Linked DNA regions of Homo sapiens: all the other regions are linked to region 7. Evidence: fine-mapped expression QTL. A gene starts in region 7. Each other region holds a variant in brackets. All regions are shown on one strand. Distances are between the middles of the regions.

The links. PIP is the estimated chance that this variant, and not a neighbour inherited with it, causes the effect.
Region 1: its variant is fine-mapped to the expression of ZNF83 in testis (GTEx, PIP 0.96).
Region 2: its variant is fine-mapped to the expression of ZNF83 in ovary (GTEx, PIP above 0.99).
Region 3: its variant is fine-mapped to the expression of ZNF83 in skeletal muscle (GTEx, PIP above 0.99).
Region 4: its variant is fine-mapped to the expression of ZNF83 in transverse colon (GTEx, PIP above 0.99).
Region 5: its variant is fine-mapped to the expression of ZNF83 in esophagus mucosa (GTEx, PIP 0.92).
Region 6: its variant is fine-mapped to the expression of ZNF83 in stomach (GTEx, PIP above 0.99).

The regions. Positions count from the first base shown.
Region 1 is chr19:52,296,734-52,300,800 of GRCh38, forward strand. It overlaps ZNF480 (zinc finger protein 480), which reads left to right and starts at 436. Exons shown (of 5, transcript NM_144684.4): 1 at 436-490; 2 at 3,661-3,751. The coding sequence starts at 3,680. RefSeq lists enhancers at 498-547, 618-667. The variant A/G (reference allele first, on the strand shown) is at 1,960.
Region 2 is chr19:52,755,493-52,759,559 of GRCh38, forward strand. No RefSeq gene overlaps it. Among named protein-coding and RNA genes, the nearest start is that of ZNF611, 22 kb to the left of the region's middle. RefSeq lists an enhancer at 619-1,334. The variant G/A (reference allele first, on the strand shown) is at 1,885.
Region 3 is chr19:52,690,674-52,694,734 of GRCh38, forward strand. No RefSeq gene overlaps it. Among named protein-coding and RNA genes, the nearest start is that of ZNF611, 42 kb to the right of the region's middle. RefSeq lists an enhancer at 2,687-3,222. The variant C/A (reference allele first, on the strand shown) is at 1,835.
Region 4 is chr19:52,670,461-52,674,527 of GRCh38, forward strand. The region is part of intron 1 of LOC122539214 (Zinc finger protein LOC122539214); the gene reads right to left. It also overlaps a transcript of ZNF83 not described here. Among named protein-coding and RNA genes, the nearest start is that of ZNF83, 34 kb to the left of the region's middle. RefSeq lists enhancers at 1-339, 3,550-4,049. The variant C/T (reference allele first, on the strand shown) is at 2,208.
Region 5 is chr19:53,534,978-53,539,044 of GRCh38, forward strand. It overlaps ZNF331 (zinc finger protein 331), which reads left to right and starts at 3,168. Exons shown (of 6, transcript NM_001079906.2): 1 at 3,168-3,319. RefSeq lists enhancers at 2,896-3,412, 3,198-3,247. The variant G/T (reference allele first, on the strand shown) is at 2,519.
Region 6 is chr19:53,179,437-53,183,503 of GRCh38, forward strand. ZNF665 (zinc finger protein 665) reads right to left here. Exons shown (of 4, transcript NM_024733.5): 2 at 3,448-3,507. The coding sequence starts at 3,462. Among named protein-coding and RNA genes, the nearest start is that of ZNF665, 12 kb to the right of the region's middle. RefSeq lists an enhancer at 2,762-3,278. The variant C/T (reference allele first, on the strand shown) is at 2,026.
Region 7 is chr19:52,636,503-52,640,569 of GRCh38, forward strand. It overlaps ZNF83 (zinc finger protein 83), which reads right to left and starts at 1,853. Exons shown (of 3, transcript NM_018300.4): 1 at 1,810-1,853. It also overlaps the pseudogene LOC124904757. RefSeq lists enhancers at 781-1,299, 1,300-1,817, 1,571-1,690 and a silencer at 1,901-2,100.

The DNA of each region.
Region 1 (4,067 bases), 340 kb before region 7:
GTCTCTGTCGCCCAAGCTGGAGTGCAGTGGCCGTCATAACTCAGTGTAAACTCGAACTCCTGGGCTCAAGCGATCCTCCCGCCTCAGTCTTCGGGGTAGCCGGGACTACAGGTGCCCGACCGCACGGTCGGCTTAAGATTAACTTTAATAGCAGGAATTTTCCTGGATCTAATCATTAGCCGACTTTGCTCAGTCCCGGCAAGAGTACAGTTCCGAGACAGCTGAGTTGCTCCAGTCTCCTTGACAGGTCTCCCCGGCAAAACCCGGAAAACAGAGGCACTGGAAGCGAGGCGGAGGGAAGCGCAAGCCCCACTCCGCCCCGCCCCCGCCCCCGCCCCCGCCCCCGCCCCCGCCCCCGCCCCCGCCCCCGCCCCCGCCCCCGCCCCCGCCCCCGCCCCCGCCCCCGCCCCGCTCGGACCCCTCCGCTGCGCGCGCAGTTTCCCACAAACCCGGAAGCGGATCGCGTGGAGTGAAGGTCACGCCGCGGCGCGTGAGTTTCCCTTTGTGTAAATTAATCTGCGCTTCCCAACTCCCCCGCGCTTCTGTACCCGGGATCTGAGGGGCCACACAGACCTTGAAATCCTCGCACCGCTCCCTCTACCCCGACCAAATTCAGGCGTCTCCGTGAGAGTCAGGCGGTCGCTTCCCTGTGTGTTTAAATCGCTCGGCGGCGGGTCCTGTCCCCCGTCCTTCTGCCACAGGGCCATGTAGTCACCTCCTGTCGCGGAGTTTTCCTGTTTCAAGTCCTTCAGTGATGCTTACATCCGCCCCGCACAGCGTAAAGTCCTCCCCCGCTAGGCGGATTCCGGTCTATGCGGTCCCCCAAGCCTCGCCTTTGTTGGCCCTGGAGCACAGCGCTCCAATCTCAATCCAGGAGAAGCCGCGTCTTCTGCCCAGTGCTGGGATTCTGCAGACGCCACCCATCTCTTGATCCAGACCCTACCTTTACCCTCCTTGATACGGGGCCCCGCTACTCCCCAGGCCTCCTCTTCCCAGACACCGCTTCTCCTAACCCTGCGTGTGGGGAGGTGACTTACTCTGTCTCTTGACATCCAGTGTTCTTGCGGGCCAAATAACACCCCACTGAAAAGGTGTTCTGCTTGTGGACATCGGATCCCAATTCCTTCCATGTGAATGTGTGCAGAAAGAGAGACGGAGAGCGAGGGAGAAGAAAGAGAAAAATTTTGAAGGAGAAAAGAAGATTGAGGGAGAGCCGTAAGCAGATGGCAAAGTAGAGAGTGGATGGAGGATTTGCAGAGACAGCGAATGAAGCCGAGAAAGTAGCAGGGGGAAAAAAGCAACTGGAGAAATGCAGAGAAAAGTTCCATCTCCGGAGAGATGAAGGACAGCAAGATAGTGAGAGGGGCAGCAAAGTGGGAAGTTCCTCAGTTTGAGAGTGGGGGAGAGGGGGAGGGATTTGGAGCCAGGGCAGACAGAGCAGCGTGGTGCTGGGACAGCAAGAGGAGTCAGCTGGTGACAACGAGAGCAGAGGGAGAACCACAGCAGGTGGAGGCCTGGGATCTCAGGGTGCCAGAGAGTGGGGACAAGGGGGTGTAACAGAAAAGAAGGGATTTAACAGAGAGAGCAGAGGGGGAGTAGAGTCAGGGGAAGAGGCAAGACCGGGCACAGTGGCTCACGCCTGTAATCCCAGCACTTTGGGAGGCCAAGGTGGGTGGATCACGTGAGGTCAGGAGTTTGAGACCAGCGTGGGCAACATGGTGAAACCCCATCTCTACTAAAAATGCAAAAATTAGCCGGGCGTCAGCGCGCGCGTGTAATCCCAGCTACTCAGGAGGCTGAGGCAGGAGAATTGCTTGAACCCGGGAGGCGGAGGTTGCAGTGAGCTGAGATTGCGCCATTGCACTCCAGGCTGGGCGACAAGAGCAAAACTCCGTCTCAGGGAAAAAAAAAAAAAAGAGACAAATAGGTGGAGAATGGGATGATCAAAGATTGAGCAGA[A/G]AGTTTGGAAGAGGGGTGAAACAAGTTGCCAGAATGGAGCAGAACAGGTGGAAGAGAAGGAATAGAAGGAAGAAGGGGAGAAACATCAGGAGAAGAGAGGGGCTCAAAATGAGCAGAATCTTAGGGGAAAAATAAAGGGGGAAAAAAGCTAGAGAAAGAAGGTGAGAATGAGAGATACGTACAGAATGAGGGAGGGAAACACAGTACCCAGAAAAGAGGGAACCCTGGGTGCAGATGAACGGTGAGTTGATTGGATATTATGATTAAGTTGTGACATTGATTTATCTATTTATAATTTGATAATATGAAATATACTTTAAAAATACAGATGAAAATGGATATGCAAAACTCCTGTCTGTAAGGCTGGTGCATTTTATAATTCTTGGCATCAGACTTTAGCTTCCACTCACATTCCCTATTCAGGCACAGGTCAGTGACTTGAGTCATTCAGGTGTGGGTCACCCACTTTCCTTTTCCTGGGATGGGGTAGGGTGTGGGCGAGTGTAAAAGATAGCAGGAAAACCAAAGTGTTTTTCCTACTCTTGCAGTCAACACAATAGTGAACACTCAACACAGAATGCTTCATATCTGATGAACAAAATGTGTGGGGATTTCTTCCCACCAACAAGCAATTCGTCAGACACCGCCTGGGTGATCCGTAATTTCAGTCAAGTTGACACTGTCTACTTGAAGTTAGCATCAGATCCCACAGGTTGGGGGCTCAGTTCCACAAGGCTGCCGCTACTTCACGTGCTGGTTGTAAGTTCCTGGTTGGGACCTGAACTTCAACCAAACATCTAAAAATTGAAGATTCCCTTGACCCTTTGCTCAGATTTTATTAATTTGTTAGCCTCATTCACAGAACTCAAGGAAGCATTTTGCTTAGTTTTACCCATTTGCTATGAAGAATATTGCAAAAGATACAGATGACTAGCCCGATGGAAGAACCCTCCTAGCAAATTAATCAAAAGAAGGGGCTTTGGGATACCCTGATTTTTTTTTTCTTTTGTTTTGTTTTGAGACAGAGTTTCACTCTTGTTGCCCAGGCTGGAGTGCAATGGCATGATCTCAGCTCACTGCAACATCCATCTCCCAGTTTCAAGCATTTCTCCTGCCTCAGCCTCCCAAGTAGCTGGGATTATAGGTGTGTGCCACCACGCCCAGCTAATTTTTGTATTTTTAGTAGAGACGAGGTTTCACAATGTTGGCCAGGGTGGAATAAATGGAGTTCAGTACTGTTTGAAGTTCCAGGCATCCAATGGGGGTCTTGGGACATCTTCCCCATGGATACGGGGATTCCAGTGTGTTCTGTCTCTGGTGCTGAGCACCAAGGCTCTGTGTCCTCCATTTCTGAGGGATTACATGAGCCTGGGATCCATAGAGAGGAGAGGAGGGGCTGTGCTCTGCATGGGGTTTGGTCAGGGCTGGGTCTGGCCCTGAAGGGGAGCTTAGACCAGGCCAGCTCCCCACTGCTGCAGCGTGCGTGTGGGCATCTCTAGGAGGGGAGCAGGTTCTGAAGACGAGTAAAAAACTCACTTGTTGTTCTTCCTGTAGGAGTTTCTTGTCTCTGCATCAACTCTGGTGCAGTGGGCAGCAGAGGACATCTTTCCGCAGGGTGAGGTCTAACCTGTGTGTGTGATTGTGGCACAGGAAAAGGGTGTGTTGATTCTAAGCCCTAAACAGCATATTTTTGACATTTAGGATTGACTTCTAAAGAGTCATGCTGTGTGATGAAAAAGCCCAGAAGAGAAGGAAGAGGAAAGCAAAGGAGTCAGGGATGGCTCTTCCTCAGGTGAGATGATATTCTCGGTGGATTGTTCTGTCTCCTTTCTTTCAGAAACGCTGGGCCTTCGAGTTGGGAGTCTTCTCTGAGTCTGAAGTGTCCTGCCTGACAGGTTTGCTCACGCTTACCTATGCCTTCCCTCAGTGCCGAGACCAGCTTGGTCGTGGGGACCCTAACCTAGTGGCACTAGAGGAATTAAAGACACAGACACAAGAATAGAGTGTAAAGTGGGATCAGGGGCCAACAGCCTTCAGAGCTGAGAGCTGCGAACAGGGTTTGACCCACATATTTATTGACAGCAAGCCATTGATAAGCATTGTTTCTA
Region 2 (4,067 bases), 120 kb after region 7:
TGTTACACTGCTACAGAGATTTTGTTTTTGGGGGGCTTGCTCCCAACAAGTTTGGCCTTCCCACCTCTATACAGTCCGATAACGGACCAGCCTTTATTAGGCAAATCACCCAAGCAGTTTCTCAGGCTCTTGGTATTCAGAGGAACCTTCATACTCTTTACCGTCCTCAATCTTCAGAAAAGGCAGAATGGACTAATGGTCTTTTAAAAACACACCTTACCAAGCTCAGCCACCAACTTAAAAAGGACTGGACAATACTTTTACCACTTTCGCTTCTCAGAATTAGGGCCTGTCCTTGAAATGCTACGGGGTACAGCCCATTTGAGCTCCTGTGTGAATGCTCCTTTTTATTAGGCCCCAGTATCATTCCAGACACCAGAGCAACTTGGACTGTGCCCCAAAAAACTTGTCATCCCTATCTTCTATCTAGTCATACTCCTATTCACCCTTGTCAACTACTCATAAATGCCCTGCTCTTCTTTACACTGCCAGTTTACACTGTTTCTCCAAGCCATCACAGCTGGTATCTCCTGGTGCTATCCCCAAACCACCACTCTTAACTCTTAAAGTAAATAAATAATCTTTGCTGGCAAGGCTATGCTGAACCTCCTTAGGCACTCTCTAATTGGATGTCCTGGGTCCTCCCAATTCTTAGTCTTTTAATACCTGTTTTTCTCCTTCTCTTATTCTGTTTAGTTTTTCAATTCATACAAAACCATATCCAGGCCATCACCAATAATTCTATATGACAAATGTTTCTTCTACCAACCCCACAATATCACCCCTTACCACAAAATCTTCCTTCAGCTTAATCTCTCCCACTCTAGGTTCCCACGCCGCCCCTAATCCTGCTCAAAGCAGCCCTGAGAAACATCGCCCATTCTCTTTCCATACCACCCCCAAAAATTTTCGCCGCCCCAAGACTTCAACACTATTTTGTTTTATTTTTTATTTATTATAAGAAGACAGGAATGTCAGGCCTCTGAGCCCAAGTTAAGCCATCATATAGCCTGTGACCTGCAGGTACACATCCAGATGGCCTGAGGTAACTGAAGAATCACAAAAGGAGTGAAAATGGCCTGTTCCTGCCTTAACTGATGACATTACTTTGTGAAATTCCTTCTCCTGGCTCAGCCTGGCTCAAAAGCTCCCCCACTGAGCACTTTGTGACCCCCGGCCCTGCCCTCAAGAGAACAACCCCCTTTGACTGTAATTTTCCTTTATGTACCCAAATCCTATAAAACAGCCCCACCCCTATCACTCTCGCTGATTCTCTTTTTGGACTCAGCCTGCCTGCACCCAGGTGAAATAAACAGACTTGTTGATCACACAAAGCCTGTTTGGTGGTCTCTTCTCACAGACGGGAGTGAAATTTACTGCAGAATATTTCCCAAAGTCTCATAATGATGCAGAAATACATGTGTACAAGACTTGTTCTGACACCTGGCACAGAACTGACAGTAGTGGCTCCCCAGGGAGGCTGGAAGGAGGGTGGAGGACGTGACAGGGAAGTGACAGGGAAAGGAGATGCTTTATGGACAAGGGCCTAAGCTGCAGCTTTGCTTGGAGCGTTACCACAAAACAAATACATACATCATGTGATGTTTAAATATCACAATATATATTTAATAATAATTGGTGGGGCTGAGCACGGTGGCTCGTGCCTGTAATCTCAGCACTCTATGAGGCTGAAGCAGGCAGATCACCTGAGGACAGGAGTTCAAGACCAGCCTGGAATCCCAGCACTTAGAAAGGCAAAGGCGGGCGGATCACGAGGTTAGGAAATCCAGACAGTCCTGGCTAACAAGGTGAAATTCTGTCTCTACTGAAAATACCAAAAAATTATCCGGGCGTTGTGGCACTCAACTGTAGTCTCACCTACTC[G/A]GGAGCCTGAGGTAGGAGAATCGCTTGAACCTGGGAGGCAGAGGTTGCAGTGAGTCGAGATCACGCCACTGCACTCCAGCTTGGCTACAGAGCAAGACTCCATCTCAAAAAAAAAAAAATTAACCAGCCATGGTGGTACGCACCTGTGGTCCCAGCTACTTGGGAGGCTGAGGCTTGGGGATGGCTTGAGCCTGAAGGAGGTTGCAGTGAGCTAAGATCATGCCACTGCGCTCCAGCCTAAGCAACACAGCGAGACCTTCTCTCAAAATAAAATCAAATATATGAAAACAGAATAACTCAAAGTACGAAAATCCATTTTGTTTATATAGGTCCGCAAAATAATAAAACCTACACAGACTCACAAGAAACTAGATGTTAACAAAAAAAGTTGTCATTTTCCCCAGATTTTCTTTTCTTTCTTTTTTTTTTTTAGACAGGGTCTCGTTCTGTCGCCCAGGCTGCAGTGCGGTAATGCAATCTTGGCTCACTGCAACCTCTGCCTTCTGGGTTCAAGTGGTTCTCCTGCCTCAGCCAGAGTAGCTGGGATTACCGGTGCCCACCACCATGCCCGGCTAACTTCTGTATTTTTAGTAAAGATGGGGTTTCACCATGTTGGCCAGGCTTGTTGTGAACTCCTGACCTCAGGTGATCCACCCACCTCGGCCTCCCAAAGTGATAGGATTACAGGCATGAGCCACCATGCCCAGCAGATTTTCAAAATATATACATATGTGTGTGTAAATATGCATGTATATGTATGTGCATGTGTATGTGTGTGTGTGTATATATGTATATATATATATATATATATATATAAAGATTTTAAAAATATAAAAAGTAACAAGATTTGTTTAACTGAAGAGGAATCTCATCTTGCTAGAAAATGACACTTTGGCAGTTGGGGGTAGGGGGGAATCTTGTCAGATCTAAGAAAACAGGAAATGCCCCATGCTAGAAGAAGCAATCACCCTTTCAACTGACTGACCTGGAGGAAGCTTCAGATATCTGTAGTAATGCAGGCATGTGGAGAGGCAGCCACTATGGCACTCCTTATACAAGGAAAAATCTCAAAGGATCCACATGTTGTCATTCAGCCAATTTCCAAAGCAGATGTCAAAGAGCAAGCTAGCCATGTTTACTAACTTGACAACATGTAAATTTTCGCAACTAGCAGGATCAAATATCAAAGTAAAATATTTACTAAAACACAAAGAAGAAAACAACAGACGCTGGGGTCTACTTGAGGGTAGAGAGTGGGAGGAAGGAGAAGACTAGAAAAAATAGCTATTGGGGGCTGGGCACAGTGGCTTACACCTGTAATCCCAGCACTTTGAGAGGCTGAGAGGCTTCGATCATCTGACATCAGGAGTTCAACATCAGCCTGGCCAACATGGTGAAACCCTGCCTCTACTAAAAATACAAAAATTAGCCAGGTGTGGTGGTGGCATGTGTTTGTAATCCCAGCTACTCGGGAGGCTGAGGCAGGAGACTTGCTTGAACCCAGGAGGCTGAGGTTGCAGTGAGCCGAGATCATGCCATCACACTCGAGCCTGAATAAACAAGTGCAAAACTTAGTGTCAAAAAAAGAAAAAAGAAAAAAAAAACTATTGGGTACTGGGCTTGATACTGGAGCAATAGAATAATCTGTACAACAAACCTCAATGACATGAGTTTGCCTATGTAACAAACCATCACATGTAGCCCCAATCCTAAAGTAAAAACATAAATATAAAACGTTTTATTTTTTTAATTTACTACAGAATTATTTTTAAAGTCTCATAATGATGCAGAAATACACGTGTATGAGACTTGCTTTGACACCTAACACAGAATTGCCAGTAGCGGCTCCCCAGTGAGGTTGGAAGGAGGGTGGAGGACGTGACAGGGAAAGGAGATACTTTATGGCAAAGGGTCTAAGCTGCAGCTTTGCTCGGGGTTTTACTAGAAAACAAATATATCCATCACGTGATGTTTAAATATCAAAATATCTATTTAATAATAATTGGTGGGGCTGAGCACAGTGGCTTGTGCCTGTAATCCCAGCACTCTGGGAGGCTGAGGTGGGCAGATAACCTGAGGTGAGGAGTTTGAGGCCACCCTGGCCAACATGATGAAACCCCACCTCTACTAAAAATACAAAAAAATTAACCGGGCCTGGAGGCACATACCTGTAACCCCAGCTA
Region 3 (4,061 bases), 54 kb after region 7:
GGTTTGGGAGGCGACAGCGGCCAGGAAGTATGAGGCATGATTCAAAAGCCCTGGAATTTTCTGGAACGGGGATGCAAACTAGAATGTGAAATGCAAAGCCCTGCCAGGGCGGAACATAGGATTTCATGCTGACGGCCCACAGAACAGAACAGAACTCCTCTCCCTTTCTATTCTCCATTCACAAGGGAGGGAGGGTCCGCCCTGTGCTCAGCTTCAGAGACTTCCCTAAAGCCACTGCCTGGGGTGCGGGACGGAGTGCTCAGGCCAGGGAGGAGTGAGGTCACCACCTGCTGCTTAAACACAGCAGGGGTGCAGGCGCGAAGGCGGGAGCCTGAGGTCCCAGCTACTCAGGAAGTAGGAGCAGGAAGATCGCTGAGCCCTGGGGTCCAGGCCAGCCTGGGCGACAAAGTAACACCCCCTCCCGCAAGGCCACCTTCCTTGTCTCCCTCTCTCTCCGTCTCTCTCTCTCTCTCTCTCTCTCGCTTTTTAAACCTTTTTAAATAAAATTTTTGATGGTGTGACATAGGGATCCAACATTATTCTGTTCCGTGTGGATATCCAGTTAGTTGTTCCAGCACATTTGTGGAAGAAATCTATTACTTTTTTTTCACGTTTTTCTTTTCTTTTTCTTTGAGGGAGTCTCCCTCTGTCGCCCAGGCTGGCGTGAAGGGGCGTGATCTCTGCTCACTGCGACCTCTGCCTCCTGGGTTGAAGCGATTCTCCTGCCTCAGCCTCCGGAGTATTACAGTATTACTGGTATTAGAGGCACGAGCGACCATGCCCGGCTAATTTTTGTATTTTTGATAGAGGCGGGCTTTCACCATGTTGGCCAGGCTGGTCTCAAACTCCGAACTTCAAGTAATCTACCTGCCTCGGCCTCCTAAAGTGCTGGGACTACAGGCGTGGGCTACCTTGCATAGCCTAAGGAATGCTCTTTACTGTTTAAACGTTGAGAAAATATAATTGAAAACAAAGAAAATCTTCCCCCAAATGGGTAATTATCTCCACGACAACAGAGAAATAAATAAAAACCATTTTAATAAAGAACCTTAGACTCAAATGTGATGGGAAATAGAGGCAAACAGCTATGAGGTTGAAAAGAGAGAAAGAAATGTCACTGTTCTATACAACCCATTAAGCACATGTTTTCAAGATAAACACTAATCAGTCCTCAGGGAAGGGGATTTGACAACCCCTTGGGTCACACATACTTCATCCTGGCTTTACTTGGTAATGGAGGTGACCATCTGTGTCAGCTAATTAGCTTCATCCCGAGGGAGGGGGAAAAACCCTAACCCATGTCTTTTTGACAAGTGTGAGTTTCACAACATGGGGACAGGTGCCCTCTCTGGTGAGACTCCTACAATACGACAGACACTGATGTCAGAGGTAAATAATAAAATTTAGAATATATGATTAAGTGCAGAGTTTGTTTGAACACAAAGCTTGGAAATAGCCACCTGGAAACATCAACTTCAAATGAATAGGATCAGCGTTCTCAGGTGGAGACGTTAAGATTTTACACACATAGGAAAAGACAGAGAAGCTTTACCAGAATCACATTTTCCATTCAAGACCAGTGCCTAGGGTGCAGCAACTTGACTGGTGATGGATTGATACACTTCAAGGAAGGTTACTTTATCACTCCATAAGAAGGGACAATGATGCCAAAAGGTCTTAACTCTGGGGCTGCTTAGTCTTCCTAATTATTTACAGAATAACCTTTTTTTTTTTAGTTGTTTGTTTGTTGTTGCTGTCATTTTTTCAGACAGCGTCTAGCTCTGTCACCCAGGCTGGAGTGTACTGGCACTATCTCGGCTCACTGCAACCTCCA[C/A]CTCCCGGGTTCAAGCAGTTCTCCTGCCCCAGTCAGCCAGGTAGCTGCGATTACAGGCCAGTGCGACCACGCCTGGCTAATTGTTTTCTGTTTTTAGTAGATACTGGGTTTCACCATGTTGGGCTTCTCCATTAATCTCTCCTGCACACTTCAGACCACATCCACACACACTTAAATCAACTTCAGTTCAGAGATGAGAAGCAAAAACCTAGAGAGGACACATCCACAGTTACTCACCAGGCTGAGGTGGGAGGATTGCTTGACCCTGGAGAGCAGAGGTTGAAGTGACTCAAGATCGCACCACTGCCCTCCAGCCTGGGGGACATAGTGAGACCCCGTTACCCACATCCACCAAAAAGTTGGAAATGCATTGAAATAAGAGACAGCTTCAAGAAACTATAAAAGCAATGCATGCAGAAAATTCAAAGGTCAACCAACATACAGAAACTATGAAGAACTACACAGAAACTCTTGGGCTAAAAATAGAGTAACTAAATGAAAAAACGCAATACATGGGTTCAAAATCAGAATTCATTAGGTAAATTAAAAATTAGTGAAGAGGGGATGGGTGAGGTGGCTCACACCAGGACTTTGGGAGGACAAGGTGGGTGGATCACTTGAGCTCAGGAGTTTGGAGACCAACCTGGCCAATGTGGTGAAACCTTGTCTCTACTAAAAATACAAAGATTAACAGGGTGTGGTGGTGAGCTCCTGTAGTCCCAGCTACTCTAGGGGCTGATACAGGAGAAGCACTTGAACATGGGAGGCAGAGGTTGCAGTGAGCCGAGATCACCCCACTGCCCTCCAGCCTGGGCGACAAAGCAGGACTGTCTCAAAAAATAATAATAATAATAATAATAAAATAGGCCAGGCCTGGTGGCTTATGCTTGTAATCCCACTATAAAAAAAAAATACAGAAAATTAGCCAGGCGTGGTGGTGGGCACCTGCAGTCTCAGCTACTCGGGAGGCTGAGGCAGAAGAATGGCATGAACCTGGGAGGTGGAGCTTGCGGTGAGCTGAGATCATGCCACTGCACTCCAGCCTGGGCGACAGAGCAAGACTCCATCTCAAAAAAAAAAAAAAAAAGAAATTTATCCTTACTACTTACTGTCTACACATAGATAATCAAAGGCAAGTAGTTAAAGACATAGTTAAAAATATGACAAAACTGGCCGGGCATGGTGGCTCAAGCCTGTAATCCCAGCACTTTGGGAGACCGAGGTGGGTGGATCACAAGGTCAGGAGATCGAGACCATCCTGGCTAACACGGTGAATCCCCGTCTCTACTAAAAATACAACAAATTAGCAGGGTGTGGTGGCGGGCGCCTGTAGTCCCAGCTACTCCGGAGGCTGAGGCAGAAGAATGGCGTGAACCCGGGAGGCGGAGCTTGCAGTGAGCCGAGATCAACCCACTGTACTCCAGCCTGGGCGACAGAGCAAGACTTCGTCTCAAAAAAAAAAAAAAAAAAAAAAGACAAAACTGACACATGTGCCCATACAAGTGTAGCATGGATTCAACCCTGATGCCATGTTTAGAAAGTAGTTCCCAGCACTAGGAGGATTTAAAACTCTTATAATAGGAGTTATTATAGTAATAGAAACCTGCTTACTGCTGCCTTGTTTGCTACCTGTACTTCTTCAAACGATAAAAAGCTTCATCGCTATTTTAGTTCACCAAAATGCTTCAGCACAAGTGTACTATATGAATCACTATCAATCTGTTGCACAAAAAGACATAAGCAGCAAAAATAAGAGTGAGAATTCCCACTAATAAAAAGTGAGACTCTCAAAGGGGGGAAATGAGGGAAGAGAGAGAGACCCTCTCATATTGTTTTATATTGTTTTATACTCAGTACCTGTTTTAAGAAAAAAACAAGGAAGTGAAACCAAAGGCAGGCATCCCGATGCCAGGCATCAGACCTAAAACCAGACCTGAAACCAGGCCTCGGCCTGCCTGGCCTAAACCTAGTAATTAAAATTCCACCCCTGACCTAGCAACTGATGTTATCTATAGATCCCAGACATTGTATGGAAGGACATTGTGAAACCTCCTGTTCTGTTCTGTTTCACTCTGACCACCAGCGCATGCACCCCCTGTCACATACCCCCTGCTTGCTCAAATCAATCACTACCCTTTAATGTGAAATCTTTAGTGTTGTGAGCCCTTAAAAGGGACAGAAATTGTTCACTCAGAGAGCTCGGATTTTAAGACAGTAGCTTGCCAAT
Region 4 (4,067 bases), 34 kb after region 7:
TTCTATATAAGTAAATTGCCTTTCTGAGAAGAAAAAAAGAAAATTTTATATTTGGTGCTATTTCTTTTGCAGCACCGAAACTTTATTTACAACACACTTAAAATGAGTTATATTTGTCATGGAAAAGAGTCAAACTCTGTAAAATATTTTAAAATATTTATTCTGCACTAAATATGAATAATCATGGCCCATGACACAACTCTCAGGAGGTCCTGAGAACATATGTCCAAGGTGATGGGGAACAGCTTCTTCTTAGACATTTTAGGGAGGCATTAGACATCAATCAAATACATTTAAAAGATGCATTAATTTTGTTCAGAAAGGTGGGACAACTCAAAGTGGGAGCTTCCAGGCTACAGGTAAATTTAAACATTTTCTGATTAGAATTGGTTGAGTTTGTCTAAATACCTGGGATCAATAGAGAGGAAATGTTCAGGTTAAGATAAAAGATGTTGGAGACCAAGGTTCTTTTGAAGTCCTCTGCTGGCTGCCTTCAGAGAAAATAGATGATGAATGTTTTTTATTCAGACCTTTAAAAGGTGTTAGATTTTTAGTTATTCTCTTCAGGATTGGTAGGGCCTAGAAGAAAAAGATCTAGCTATGTTAACAGAGATTCTTTGCAGACGCACATGAACCCCTCACAAACGATACCTTTGAAGGACCATTTCAAAATATGGCACAGAAACATGTTTTGAGGTCAAATATTTTGACTTTCTTCTTTGCCATATGTTTTGTGGTTTGTAAGGCATGACCCCCTAGACTCTTTACATAGGAATTTGGACAAGATAAAAAAATCAGAGCTTACACCTCATTCTCAAATACTTTTTTTTACAGTTCTTCCCTGCAATATAACTACTTTTACGATAAATGTTGTTGACAACATAATATGCTAACATCAATAATTTATAAATGTATTGTAATATTAAATTCACTCTATGTGCCTTCTGAAAAAATTAGAAAATGTACCTTTTATCTTCAAGTTGTACTTTTTTTTTTTCCTTCAGACAGGACCTAGTTCTGTCACCCCGGCTGGAATGCAGTGGCAGGAACACTGCTCCTTGCACCCTCAACCTCTGGTGCTCAAGCAATCCTCCCGCCACACCTCCCAACTAGCTGGAGCTGCAGGCCCTCACCACCAAGCCTGGCTAATTTGTTAGTACTTTGTAGAGGGGTGGTCCCACTATGATGCTCAGGCTAGCCTTCAACTCCTGGACTCAAGCGATCAACCCACCTTTGCTTCCCAAAGTGTTGGGGTTACAGGCAAGCCACCACACCCATCCAATTGCAATCTATTTTAGGTGTTTTCTTTGTTATTCTCTCCTGAGTGTTCTATCAGGTGGGAATAACAAAGGCTATAAAATATGCAGTCTTTAAATGTTAGGATTTATTTTCATATAGAGAAAGATCATGAAATATTACTAAGAATACATTGCAGTCAAGTTATTCCGTTTTACTTGGGCCCTGAAAAAATATAACTAAGTTATAAAATTGGCTGGGCACATTGACTCACACCTGTAATCCCAGCACTTTGGGAGGTCGAGGCAGGTGGATGACCCAGAGGTCAGGAGATTGAGACTAGCCTGGCTAACATGGTGAAACCCCATCTGTACTAAAAATACAACAATTAGCTGGGTAAGGTGGCACAAAACTGTAATCTCAGCTACTCAGGAGATTGAGGCAGGAGAATCTCTTGAATCCAGGAGGCAGAGGTTGCAGTGAGCAAAGATCTCACCACAGCTCTCCAGCCTGAGCAAAAGAGTGAGATTCTGTCTCAAAAAAATAAAAATAAAAATAAAATGAAATTATAAATCACCTCATTTCTGCATGTAATACTTTTATGACTATATCTGTAAGTTAACATGTACTATGAACTATGTTTTTCTCCCACATCCCTAGCTATGGAAGAATTCATCTATCAAACACTAGTAATTAGCTAAAATATGATTACATTTAGAAGGGAAATTAGCATATCTAGAATATTAGCAAGTTTAAAAAAGCATAATGTCGTCAGGCATGGTGGCTTGTGCCTGTAATCCGAGCATGATGGGAGGCTGAGGCAGGAGGATGGCTAGTGCCCAACAGTTGGAGTCCAGCCTAGGCAACATAGCACCTCATCTTTATGTTTTAAAAATTAATTAAGTTACTTATTTATTTTTGAGATTGAGTTTGGTTCTTGTTGCCTAGGCTGGGGTGCAATGGCACGGTCT[C/T]GGCTCACTGCAACATCTGCCTCCTGGGTTCAAATGATTCTCTTGCCTCAGCCTCCCAGGTAGCTGGGATTATTGGTGCTCGCCATCATGCTGGGTTAATTTTTGTATTTTTAGTAGAGACGGGGTTTCACCGTGTTGGCCAGGCTGGTCTCCAAATCCTGACCTTCCAAAGTGCTGGGATTACAGACATGAGCCACCGTGCATGGCAAAAAAGTTTATTTTAATCAGAAATAATTAATAAATAGAACATGATAATGGGTACAAAAAATAGAATAAGACCTATTATTTCATAACACAACAGAATGACTGTAGTCAATGATTAAATTGTACATATAAAAATGGGGATGGCCAGGTGTGGTGGCTCAAACCTATAAGCCCTGTCTCTACCAAAAATACAAAAAAAACTGGATGTGAGCCTGTAATCCCAGCTACTCAGGAGACTGAGGCATGAGAATCACTTAAACCCAGGGAGCAGAGGTTGCAGTGAGTGGAGATTGCACCACTGCATTCCAGACTGTGCGAAAGAGCTGGACTCCATCTCAAAAAACTAAACAAATGGCTGGGCACAGTGGCTCATGCTTGAATCCCAGCACTTTGGGAGCCAAGATGGGTGGATCCCCTGAGGTCAAGAGTTCGAGACCAGCCTGACCAACATGGTATAACCCTGTCTCTAAAAAAATACAAAATTAGCCGAGGGTGATGGCGCATGCCTGTAATCTCAGATATTCAGGAGGCTGTGGCAGGAGAATCATTTGAGCCAAGAAGGCAGAGGTTGCAGTGAGCTGAGATCGCACCACTACACTCCAGGGTACACAAGAAGAGTGTAACTCCATCACACACACACACACACACAAAATGCTATAAACAGAACATCAGAAAAAAAATATAGAAAGTCACATGTATTTAAAAACCTTAAGCTTTTGAAAGCTGTTTTCCCAAGTAATCAAAAATGAGCCAATAACGATGCAAATATTATCTTTTTGTTTTTTGTTTTTTCTGGAGACAGAGATCATGCAACTGCACTCTAGCCTGGGTGACAGAGTGAGACTCCAACTCAAAAAAATAAATAAATAAAAAATTATTAGGCCAGGAGCAGTGGCTCTTTGGGAGGCTGAGGTGGGCCAATCACCTCAGGTCAAAAGTTCGAGACCAGCCTGGTCAACATGGTGCAACCCTATCTCTACTAAAAATACAAAAAATTAACCGGGCCTGGTGGTGTGTGCCTGTAATCCCAGCTACTAGGGAGGCTGAGGCAGGAGAATTGGTTGAAGCTGAGAGGTGGAGGCCGCAGTGAGTCGAGATCATGCCACTGCCCTGCAGCCTGGGTAACAGAGTGAGACTCCATCTCAAAAAAAAAAAAAAAAAAAAAAATTACCAATGTCAACTGAACTTGGAAAGCACCACACATTTGCACACTCACACAGACACAACCCTCTGATATGGCTCTAGACCAAATCCACAGGTTAAAAAGCCCTCAAATGAACTCTTGGGCCTTAAGCCTTTCAAAAGATCACCTGTTTCCTGTGAGGTTGGGGCTGTGGCCCTGATGTGTGAAGACTTAGGACCATCCTGTCATCATAGAAACCCTAAACAAAATAAAGAAGGAAATTTACCTCAACAATATAAAAGACCATCCATGAAATGACCACAGCTGAAATAACCAATCAGGAAAAATTGAATGCTTTTCCTGTAGGATCTCACATGATGCTAGAACGTTCTCACCCTTTCTATTCAATCAATACTGACTGTCCTAGCCAGAGCAATGAAATAGCAAAAGAAATCAAACTCATCCAAATCAGAAAGAAATAAATAAAATTTTATTTGTTTGTAGATGACACGATCCTCTGTGTAGAAAGTCAC
Region 5 (4,067 bases), 900 kb after region 7:
AATTATATACTTTATAATGGGATTAATGAAAGCCTGTAACCAAAAAAAAAAAAAAAAAAAAATTATTCCCCTAAGAAGCACACAAAGAGGAAACTAAAAATTACCCTTATTTATTTATTTATCTATTTATTTATTAAGACAGAGTCTTGCTTTTGTTGCCCAGGCTGGAGTGCAATGGTACAAGCTCGGCTCACTGCAACCTCTGCCTCCCGGGTTCAAGAGATCTGCCTCAGCCTCCTGAGTAGCTGGGATTACAGGTGTCTGCCACACATTCAGCTAATTTTTGTATTTTTAGTAGAGATGGGGTTTCGCCATGTTGGCCAAGGCTGGTCTCGAACTCCTGGCCTCCAGTGATCCACCTGCCTTGGCCTCTCAAAGTGCTGGGGTTACAGGTGTAAGCCACTGTCCGGCCGTAATTACCCATATTTATACCATCTAAAGATAATTACTGTTAACACTTAGTATGTATGTTTACTGTCTTCCCCTCCACCTCTAAGCATGTGTGTGTTTTGTTTCTGGAACATTGAATCCTATTAATCATGTAAATGAGGCAAAAACTCTCCAAATCATAGTTTGTAAAAGAAATCCAGCCCAACCACGGGTCACATTATGTCTGTGTGCATGTGGAGAGAAGAGAGATACCAGTCATGTTTCCTTGCTTTGAAAAATTAATCATTGATGAATATGAAAATAGTCACTGGATACCTTACAAATATGGACTTTGGAAATATTCCCAAGGTTATATGTGCAAGTAACGAATATTGACTGTAACATTTCAAAGGTATATGAAATAGAATGAGATAGCACTAGTTTAAAATGTTCACTTTTTTTTTTTTTTTCTTTTTTGAGATGAAGTCTTACTCTGTCACCCAGGCTGGAGTGCAGTGGCGCAATCTTGGCTCACTACAACCTCTGCCTCCCAGGTTCAAGCGAATCTCCTGACTCAGCCTCCTGAGAAACTGAGATTACAATCTCACCACCATGCCCGGCTAATTTTTGTATTTTCAGTAGAGACAGGGTTTCACCATGTTGCCCAGGTTGGTCTTGAACTTCTGACCTCAAGTGATCCGCTCACCTTGGCTTCCCAAAGTGCTGGGATTACAGGTGTGAGCCACTGCACCTAGCTGATAAGAATCTTTAAACTAGATTTTTTAAGGAACTATCATGTCTCTGTCTCCCTAGTTAAAAGGAAATAGCAGACTTGTTACTTTTATGAAAATGGATTGAGATATGTTACTGATTTTTTAGTAATAACAGCTACCTTATCTTAATTGTTATATATGACTGTGTGTTTCATGTGGATGATCCTGTTCAAACAGTCATACATTGTACTATCTTTCTTGTGGTTTTACCAGTGAGGAAACTTTACCACACTGTGAAGTTAATAACTATCAGAGCTCAGATTAACACCCTCAAATCAGACCACAGAGCCTGTGTTAATTTCACCAAAACATGTCTGCTCAAATTATATGTACCATTTTAACCTACCCTTTTCCCTTGTTGATTCTTCAGAAGTTTTCTTAATTAATGAGTCAGTATTATTAGGAAATGTACTCTATGTCATTGTATAACAGACCATGGTTTAATCTGATTTTCCTTTATCCTCCACTGCAAGATTTTCATTTTTAAAAATTATTCTCGACTGGGTGTGGTGGCTCACGCCTGTAATTCCTGCACTTTGTGAGGCCGAGGCAGGCGGATCACCTGAGGTCGGGAGTTCGAGTCCAGCCTGACCAACATAGAGAAACCCCGTCTCTTCTAAAAATACAAAAAAAATTAGCCGGGCGTGGTAGCGCATGCCTGTCATCCCAGCTACTGGGGAGGCTGACGCAGGAGAACCCCTTGAACCCAGGAGGCGGAGGTTGCAGTGAGCCGAGATCGCACCATTGCACTTGAGCCTGGGCAACAAGAGCGAAACTCCGTCTCAAAACAAACAAACAAACAAACAAAAAATTATTCTCTGGAAATTCTGGGTAACGTCAGTGGATTACATCAATGTTAATCTTCTGGTTGTGGTATTATATACTACAATCACCAGCTGAGGTAACCAGGTGAAAGGTACACAAGATCTCTCAATTTTATTTCTTGTAACTACATATGAATCTAAAGTCTATCTAATTAAAAGAGAAAAAGATTTTCAGAAAAAAAGCATTTTGTGAACATACTTCAACATTGTGTACAACTATAGCTACTTCCTTGGCATAAATACCAAAAAGTGGGATTTTGAGTCAAAATGAGACTGTGGTTAAGTACCTGCAACATCCTGTAGACCCTGTGACGTTAGTACTTGGAATGAGAGCGGGACTCACGGGGCATAACTGCTACCTGTACATTGTTTACAATGCAGCAAGCAAGGGACACCGAATAGCAGCTCCGGCAGCCTGTGCTAGCGGCCTGCAGAGAATTCCAGGTGACGCTCCAGAGGGGCTAGGAGAGGATACCCTTCTGAGGACAGCCATGGCTCGCCCGGCATCACCCCACTCAAGAGGCCAGACGGGGTCCCAGCTGGGGTGACACA[G/T]CTCCTTTCCCAGTCGGGAAGGGGCGTCTGCAGGGACCAGGAAGGGCTTAGCTTGGGGCTGCCCGCTCCGGCACCGACCTGGGACGCGCCCTGAGGCCCCTGCCTGGGACCGTCCCGGACTACATTTCCCAGAGACCATCCAGGAGTACGCCGTGCTGCATGCTGGAACACGGGGCTTGGGGCTCTGGTTTCCCCCGACGGCCCCGCGTCCTCTTCTAGCCTCACCCTCTCCCGAGGCCCCAGCGTTGGGGGACTACCGGGTGCGTCTGCGGCTTTGGGAGAGTGGGAGGAGGGAAAGGGATGGGAGGGGTGCACGCACACGTGTCAGTGTGTCCGCGTGTCAGCATCTGTGCAGGCGCACGTGTGTGTCGGGCTCTGTTGTGTCTGCACATGCGTGTCGGCATCTGTGCGTGCGCACACGCCCGTCAGGGTCTGTGTGCCCGCACAGGCACGTCAACAGCTGAGCACGCTATGTATCGGGGGTCTGTGTACGCTCACATACGTGTCGGGGTCTGGGTACGTGCACATACGTGTAGGGGTCTGTGTGCACATGCGTGTCGGGCTCTGCTGCTGTCTGCGCGCTGCGGCCGCTGGGTGCGCGTGCGCATGCGCGCTGGCCTCCAGGGGGTGGCGGGACCGAGTGTGTGACGCACTTGCGTGGGAGTACGAGGCTGACGCGGCGGCCCTGTCCCCGTAACTGTGACACGGGTGCACGCGAGCGTCATTGGGGGCGATGGGGGCCGTGCTGGGTGCGCGTTTGCACCAGTGACGCAGCCGCTGCATCTCCGCCAGTCCGCGCAGGTGAGATTGGTGCGCGTGGCTCCGAGGGGAGACGGGCACGGGGCTTCTGACGGTGACGCACTTGCTGGAGAGTGTGGGGTGACACAGCCGGGCTCTCCCCATAACTGGTGACCGGGGGTGCTCCAGAGGCTTTGGGTCAACGCAGCCCGTGCCTGTGAACCTCGGCGGTGCGTCCCTGGGACTCTGCTCCGTGAGGTGCGCTCTGGGGGTTGTGCGGGGGCAGCGGTCGGGACGGGTCTCCGTGGCCCACGGATGCACCTCTGCACCGTGTGGGGTGGTGGGGCCCGTAGCATGGCCGTGCTGGGCGTTAGTGGGTATGAGGGGCGCAGATGTGTCTCAGGACAGAGTGAGCTGTGGTGAGGCTGAGCTGTGCAGACTTGTGCTGGGATGGGTGATCGGGCCTTCTGGGTGACGCAGGTGTGTGTGACAACACAACCTGTAGCTTCAGCGTCTCTGTGCTGGGATGGATGATCGGGCCTTCTGAGTGATGCAGGTGTGTGTGACAGTGCAACTTGTAGCTCCAGCGTCTCTGCTGCTTCCCCTGCCTTCACCTCCTAACCAAGCGGTACCTGCCTGAGAACAAGGGCCGCGGAGGGACGTGAGCGCCTGAGCCTCGCCTGGAAATTCACCAGCAAGAAGGCAGAAACAGCCATGAGGTGACGCTTTCAGAGCCAGAAGTGCTGTGCATGCAGGCCACCTGAGTGACAGGGGACGGTGGCCTCAGGAGTAGAATTCCTCCTGTAGAGGG
Region 6 (4,067 bases), 540 kb after region 7:
ATTTATTTCTTTTTTTTGTTTTTTTTTTTGAGATGGAGTTTTGCTTTGTCACCCAGGCTGGAGTGCAGTGGGTTCAGGGAGCTTCCAGAGGGCTGACATGTGGAGGTTCCTGGAGGACGGCATACCCAGGGAGGGCAGGGAAGCTCTGCGCCCCTTTCCCCATACCTCACCTTATGCATCTCTTCACTGGTATCTTCTGTAATAGTATTTATAATCAACCAGTAAAACTGAGTGTTTCTCTGACCTCTAAGAGTTGCTCCAGCAAATAAATCCAACCCAAAGAAGGGTTCATGGGAACTTCAACTTGAAGTTGGTCGGTCAGAAGTTTCAGAGGCCTGGACATGCAACTGGGAACTGAGCCATCAATCTGTGAGATCTGACACTATCTTCATGCAGACAGTGTTGGAACTGAACTGGAGGACAGCCAGTTGGTTGCTTGCTGTTTGTTGGTGGGGAGAAACCCCTCGCATTTGGCCACAGAAGTCTTCTGTGTGGATTGTGGTGTTGGTGTGAGAGCAGAGGAAAACATGGTTTTTGAGTTGTTTTTCCTAAACAGCACCAAAAGTAAATTAACATGAGGTCACCTAACTGAGAAAAACTGAAACAAGTTCAAGGCTAACAATATGGAATTTCACCAAAGGTCATTATATACACAAACGCATTTATGTCCATATATTACTATCCTATTAGTTCATTAATAGATAATAGAGAACAGGCTGGGTGTGGTGGCTCACACCTGTAATCTCAGCACTTTGGGAGGCCGAGTTAGATGGATCACCTGAGGTCAGGAGTTCGAGACCAGCCTGGCTAACATGGTAAAACCCCGTCTCTACTAAAAATACAAAAATTAGCCAGGTGTGATGGCAGACACCTGTAATCCCAGCTACTCGGGAGGCTGAGGCAGGAGAATTGCTTGAACCTAGGAAGCAGAGGTTGCAGTGAGCCGAGATTGCGCCCCTTCACTCCAGCCTGGGCAAAAGAGTGAAACTCCATCTCAAAAAAAAAAAAGACAGTGGAGAACAAATTTAAGGCCACAGAAAATATTTAAAATATGATTTCAAATGATAAAACACATACAATTTATTTAAATGATGGTATGTCTTTTATAAAACCATGGGTGTATGCATCTACATATTCATGTGTGCACATCACATATACCAGTTAAATTAAGTGAAATAAGGAGATGTGTCTCAATGATGTATTTTTTTTTATGACATCTTTAGTTGTCTTTTTTGCTCATGTGCTTTTCAGAAAGTCTGGGACAACTGAAATGCATGAATTGTACTTGATTTAGTTTACAAACATTTTTGTAAATTAAGCTGTAAAAACGCTAAAACAAAAATATGTAAGAACTTGTACTCCAATTGGTATTAAATACAAATATTAAAAGTACAGATACCATTTTTTTCCAGTTAAATTTAGATATTTAGGCATTAACAAAAGCCCAATGGAGGTTTTAGTTTATTTTACTCATGAAATCCTAAGATTAGGACATTTTTTAATATCATACATGAATAGATTTCAGAAGTACATATTGCAACAATACTTACTCAAAGAAATTATTGGATAATTAAAAATCAGTCCAAAAAGGAAATTTGAAAAACACCCAAAAGCTAATATTAAACAAGAAAATTTCACCAAACATCATAATCAAGCAGTAAATGCTGGATGCATTTGATCTAAATTAAAATGGAGAAAATGGGCTGGGCATGATGGCTCATGCCTGTAATCCTAACACCTTGGGAGGCCAAGGCGGGTGGATTGCTTGAGCTCAGGAATTCGAGACGATCCTTGGCAAAATAGTGAGACCCCCATCTTTACAAAAAATATAAAAATTAGCTGGGTGTGGTGGCATGCACGTGTAGTCCCAGCTACTTGAGAGGCTGAGATGGGAGGCTGGCTTGAGCCCAGGAGGTGGAGGTTGCAGTGAGCCGAGATTGCACCACTGCACTCCAGACTGGGCGACAGGGCCGGACCTTGTATCAGAAAAAAAAAAAAAGGAGAAAATGGGGGCTCACCAAGGCT[C/T]CAGCTAAAGCCCACTTCAGAGCATGCCTGAGCTGAGACCAAGAAAAAGGTAAAGTAGGAGCTGGATCTGTTAAAACTAACAGATGACATACTCACAACCCAGGAGAAGAATGCATTGAAGTTTAAGAACTAATAACAATACTGTGAAAACAATCTTCATTCTTTCTTTAGCAGCTCTCATTAGACACAAACACACAATGCATCTCACGAGTACATTAGGAATTATACAATGCTACCTATTAAAATACGTTTCCAGACCTATTTAAAGAAATTATAAGACTGTACTAAAGTGATGATGTCAATAAAATAGAGGACTAGAACTCCCAAACACTACCTCCACCACGGAGACACAAATGTAGTAGCAATATATGAACCAATTGCTTTGTGAGAAACCCAGTGGTCATTTAAGAGGTTGGAACTCTTAACAGAAGTCTAGTAGGAAAATACAGGACATCTGCTCCCAGAGGCCTTACCCTGGCATGATGCAGTGTCACTGCAAGAAAAACACCAATTTCCCATTTCTCCTGGGAGAGGAAAAGTATGAAAACATTCATCCAATATTCTGTCTTTTCAGGGCGCTGCCTGAGGGATAAGTTTCTCTCTTGGTTGAATATAAGTAATGAAGGCCGGGCGCGGTAGTTCACGCCTGTAATCCCAGCACTTTGGGAGGCCGAGGCGGGTGGATCGCTTGAGCTCACGAATTGGAGACCGGCCTGGGCAACACGGTGAAACACCATCTCTATTAAAAATACAAAAAAAAATAGCCGGGCATGGTGATGCATGCCTGTAGTCCCAGCTACGCAGGGGGCCATGGCCAGAGAATCACTTGAGCCCAGGAGGCGGAGGTTGCAGTGAGCTGAGATCGCGTCACTGCACTCCAGCCTAGGCGACAGAGCGAGACTCTGTCTCAACAAAAACAACAAAAAAAAGGAGTTTGGAGTCAGAAACACAGTGACTCACTTGTTCGGCATCAAATGCAAATATAAATGAGGTGACAAAGCTTTCCCCACAGTCGTCTCATTTTACAGCATTTCGTGGGTGCTTGTACACACTAACATCTGACTTCATAACCAGCTTCTCTTATCACAGTTTACACAGAGCTGTCAATATATTCAAATATGTCCTGAACAATCCCTGTTGCCCAACAGCACTGACACCACGGGACCCTCACCCCGTCTCCATCCATGTCGGGGTGTGAGCCCTTCCCAGGTCCATGCCCCGTGCAGCCTCTTCCCAAGTTCATGTCACTGGGTCACCAGAGATGGAATCTAAGTGAGATGAGAGGGACTGAGGGAAGGCACGAGTGAGTGCGAGCAAACCTGTCAGGCAGGATGCTTCAGACTCAGAGAAGATTCCCAACTCCAAGGTCCAAGGTTTCTGAAAGGAAGGAGACAGAACAATCCACCGAGAATATCATCTCACCTGAGGAAGAGCCATCCCTGACTCCTTTGCCTTCCTCTTCCTCTTCTTCCAGGGTTCTACCTTGGGTAACATGAAAGAGACTTTAGAATTCAATCCTGAATGTCAAAAATACGCTGTTTGTTGGTTAGAATCAACACACCCCCTCCCTGGGCCATAACCTTATACACAGGGAAGACCTTATACACAGGGAAGATGGTCCTCTGCTGCCCACTGCACCAGAAAAGATGCAGGGATGAGAAACTCCTACAGGAAAAACAAGTGAGTTTCTGACCTCTTTCTTTAGAACCCACTCCCCTCCTGGAGAAGCCCCCACACAGGCTGCAGCAGTGGGGAGCTGGGCTGGAATGAGCTTCTGTTCGGGGCACAGACCCAGCCCTGACCAAACCCCATGCTGAGCACAGTCCCTCTCCCCTCTGTGAGTCATAGGCTGATCTCAGCCTTCAGAAATGATCAGCAGTGCCCTGGTGCTCAATAGTAGATACAGAATAACAGAACAGAACAAATCTTAAATGTCACTGAAGCTGGGCTGCAACTTATCTGAATGAAAATCTCTGCTAAGGGGGCGTAAGAGATGTATTTGCAAAATGCCTCAGCATTCTTGAGCTCCACTGAGAGGGGCC
Region 7 (4,067 bases):
ATGTACATGTCTTATAGATAGGATTCTTAAAATTCTCAATCTCATCTGTATAATTTAAGCAGTTTTAAGTTACTAGATTATATACAAAGAAGTCAAATGTCACAACTAATCGTATCCAATGAACTCACCCACTCATCTAAACCCAAAGTCCTCCGCCCCTTTTTTTCTTTTGAGACAGGGTCTTGCTCTGTTGACCAGGCTGGAGTGCAGTGACATGATCTCGGCTCACTGCAGCCTGGACCTCCTGGGTTCAAGTGATCCTTCTGCCTCGGCCTTCAGAGTAGCTGGGATTACAGGTGCACACTATCATGCCCGGTTGTTTTTTTTTTTTTTTGGTAGAGATGGGGGTCTCACTATGTTGCCCAAGCTAGACTCGAACTCCTGTACTCAAGCAATCTTCTTGCCTCAGTCTCCTAAAGTGCTGGGATTACAGGCGTAAGCCACTGCGCCCAGCCCATCTTTCTTCATTACTGTGCTTCCCTCCCTAATTGTGTACATATCTCTCATTCTCCCCTTCTCTCTCTAGCTCTTGTTTTCTTTTCTTTTTACCTGGCATTCTGCTCCTCATTTTGTACCCCTCTCCTCTCCTGCTGTTTATCCCCTTCTTCCCTCTATTCCTTCTCTTCCACCTCTTCTGCTCCATCCTCGCAACTTACCTAACTTCTTGCTGTTCCTTCTCCCCAATCGTTCTATCGTCCTCAATCTTGATATATTTCCGCCTCTTCTCCCATCTCTGTGCATCCTCTGCTCTCCCTGTTAAATTCCGTCTTCCCTGTTATACCCCCTGTCCCCAATATGTGGAACCACAGATCCCCAGGTGTCCTCCCTGCTGTGGTTCTCCCTCTGTTCTCCTTGCCACCAGCACCACTCTGCTCTGTCTGCCCTGGCTCCAAATCCCTCCTCCTCTCCCTCACTCTGATGAGATTCCCTCTTTGCTGCCCCTCTCCCTACCTTGCTGTCCTTCATCTCTCTGTACATCTAGGTTTCTCTACGTTTCTCCAGTTACTTTTCTCCTCCTGCTTTCTTTTTTTTTCTTTTCACTTTTGCTGTCTCTTGACAAATCCATCACCCACCCTCTACTTTGCCCTCTGTTATGGGTCTTTCTCATTCTTTTCTCTGTCTCAGCTTTTCTACTGCTCTGTCTCCCAATGCCTTTGGCCGACACAATCACAGGAGGGTTTGGATAAGACGCCTGCATCCCGGAGGAGCTCGTTTTCCGGGGGCTGGAGCTGGGCAGGCAAGAACACCCCGTGTCACAGGACAGGCCCCGGGTACCTCCCCAACGCGGGTTCAGGGGAAGAGGTGACTGTGGAGGAGAGACCTGTGGAGCAGCAGGGCCCGCCACGAGGAGGGAGGTGGGGGGGAGACGGCGCCTTAAGACAAGGTTGGGGTCTGCAGGATTCCAGGACCAGGCAAAGTACGCGGCCTCCCTGGGACTGGGGCCCTGGCGCTGCGCTCCAGTGGCCTACGAAGGCGAGGGTGGGAGGCGCCCAGGGCGGGAATCCAGCTCTCGGGTGAGGACTTTAAAAAGCGAGGGGCGGGAGGAGTCAGAAAACAGTTTTGAGCAGGAAAACTACGCGACAGGAAGTGTATACATCGCCCTACAGCAGAAAGACCGGGGACAGCCCAGCCTCAGGGCGACTTTAAACCCAAAAGGAAGCGATATCCGGACTCTCATGGGGACGTCTCAATTTGTCCTGGGTGAAGGAAGAAGGGAGAGAATTTCCAGGTCTGTGGGGACCCCACGTCTCAGGTACAGCAGCGCCGGGGACCTGGTAAGCGCAGACTTAATAGAAGAGCGAAACTCACCGCCACGGTGTAACTTTCACTCCACATAATCCGCTTCCGGGTTTGCGCGCATGTGCGCGCGCAGTACAGAAGCCAGGTCTGGGCGGGGCCCGCGAGGTGGGCGGGGCCTGGATGAGGTAGGGGCGGGGTGGGAAGCCGAGAGACTTTCCCCTTTAGAACCAGCAGTGGGCGGGGCCAGGGCGGGACCTGTGAGTCTCTCAGCATCGTTCCCAGCGCAGAGGCATTTTTCGGGTTTTGGAGGCGAGACCGGCCAGGAAGGCTGAGGCATGATTCAAAAGCCCTGGAATTATCTGGAACGGGGATGCAAACTAGAATGTGAAATGCAAAGCCCTGCCTGGGCGGAAGGTACAATTTCATGCTGATAGCCCACAGAACCGAATAGAAATCCTCTCCCTTTCTATTCTCCATTCACTTGGGAGAGAGTCCACGCTGTGCTCAGCTTTAGAGACTCAGGCCACTGCCTGAGATGCAGGATGGAGTGCTCAGGCCAAGGATGGGTGAGGTCACCACCTGCGGCTTAAACACAGCTGGGATATGGGCGCGGGAGTGGGAGCCTGAGGTCCCAGCTATTCAGGAAGCAGCGGCGGGAGGATCGCCGAGCCTGGGAGTTCAGGCCAGCCTGGGCGACAAAGTAACACCCCCTCCCGCAGGGCTCCCTTCCTCGTCTCTCTCTCTCTTTTCTTTTTTATAATAAAATTTTTGATGATGTTACATAGGGATCCAACATTATTCTTTTCCACGTGGATATCCAGTTAGTTGTCCCAGCGTATTTGTGTAAGAGATCTATCAGTTTCTTTTTTTGTTTCTTGAGATGGAGTTTTGCTCTAGTTGACCAGGCTGGAGTGCAATGGCGCGATCTCTGTCTCCCAGGTTCAATCGATTCTCATGCCTCTATCTCCCAAGTAGCTGGGATCACAGGGATGTGCCACCATGCCCTGCTAATTTTGTATTTTTAGTAGAGATGGGATTTCTCCATGTTGGTCAGGTTGGTCTCAAATTTCCGACCTCAAGTAATCCGCCCGCCTCGGCCTCCCAAAGTGCTGGGATTACAGGTGTGAGCCACCGCGCCCGGCTTATTTTCTTTTATATATTTAGTTTTTTCTATTTTTTTTTTTTTTTTTTTTTGAGGCAGAGTTTTCTTTTTTGGCCAGGCTGGAATGCGGTGGCGAGATCTGGGCTCACTGCAGCCTCTGCCTCCTGGGTTGAACCGATTTTCCTGTCTCAGCCTCCGGAGTAGTTGACATTACAGACGCGCACAACCATGCCCGGCTAATTTTTGTATTTTCGATACAAACGAGGTTTCACTATATTGGCTAGGCTGGTCTCGAACTTCTGACTTCAAGTGATCTGACTGCCTCAGCCTCTGAAAGTGCTGGGATTATAGTCATAAGCCACACTTCCTGGCCCAAAAAATATTCATTTCTTTACTCTTTAAATTTTGAGAAAATATAATGGAAAACAAAAAAAATCTTCCCCCCAATGAGAAATCATCTTCACGATGATAATAGTGAAAGAAATAAAAACCACATTATTAATAAGTAAGCCTTAAACCAGAATGTGATGGGAAATTGAGGCAAACAGCTAAGAGGTTGAAAAGAGACAAGGAAACTTCACTGTTCTATACAACCCATTGAGTACATGTTTTCAAGATAAACACTAATCAGTCCTCAGGGAAGAGGACTTGACAACACTCTTGGTCACACATAGTTCATCCTGGCTCTATTTGGTAATGGAGGTGACCATCTGTGTCAGCTAATTAGCTTCATCCAGAGGGAGGGGGAAAACCCTAACCCATGTCTTTTTGACGAGTGTGAGTTTTACAACATAGCGACGCGTGCCCTCTCTGGTCAGGCGCCTACAATCCGACAGAAACTGACGTCAGCAGTAAATAATAAAATTTAGAATGTAAGATTAAGTACTGAGTTTATGTGAACACAAAGCTTGAAGAAAGCCACCTGGAAACACCAACTCCAAATAAATGAGATCGGCGTTCCAAAGTAGAGACGTTAAGGTTTCACACACAGGGAAAGACAGAGAATCTTTAGCAGAATCATGACAGCTTTCATTCAAGCCCAGTGCATAGGTTGCAGCAACTTGATTGGTTATGGATTGATACAATTCGAGGAAGGTCACTTTATCACTCCATAAGAAGTAACAATGATCCCATGAGGTCTTATCTCTGGGGCTGCTTAGTCTTCCTAATTATTAACAGGAAAACTCTTTTTTGTTTTTCTTTGAGAGGCAGTATTGCTCTGTCG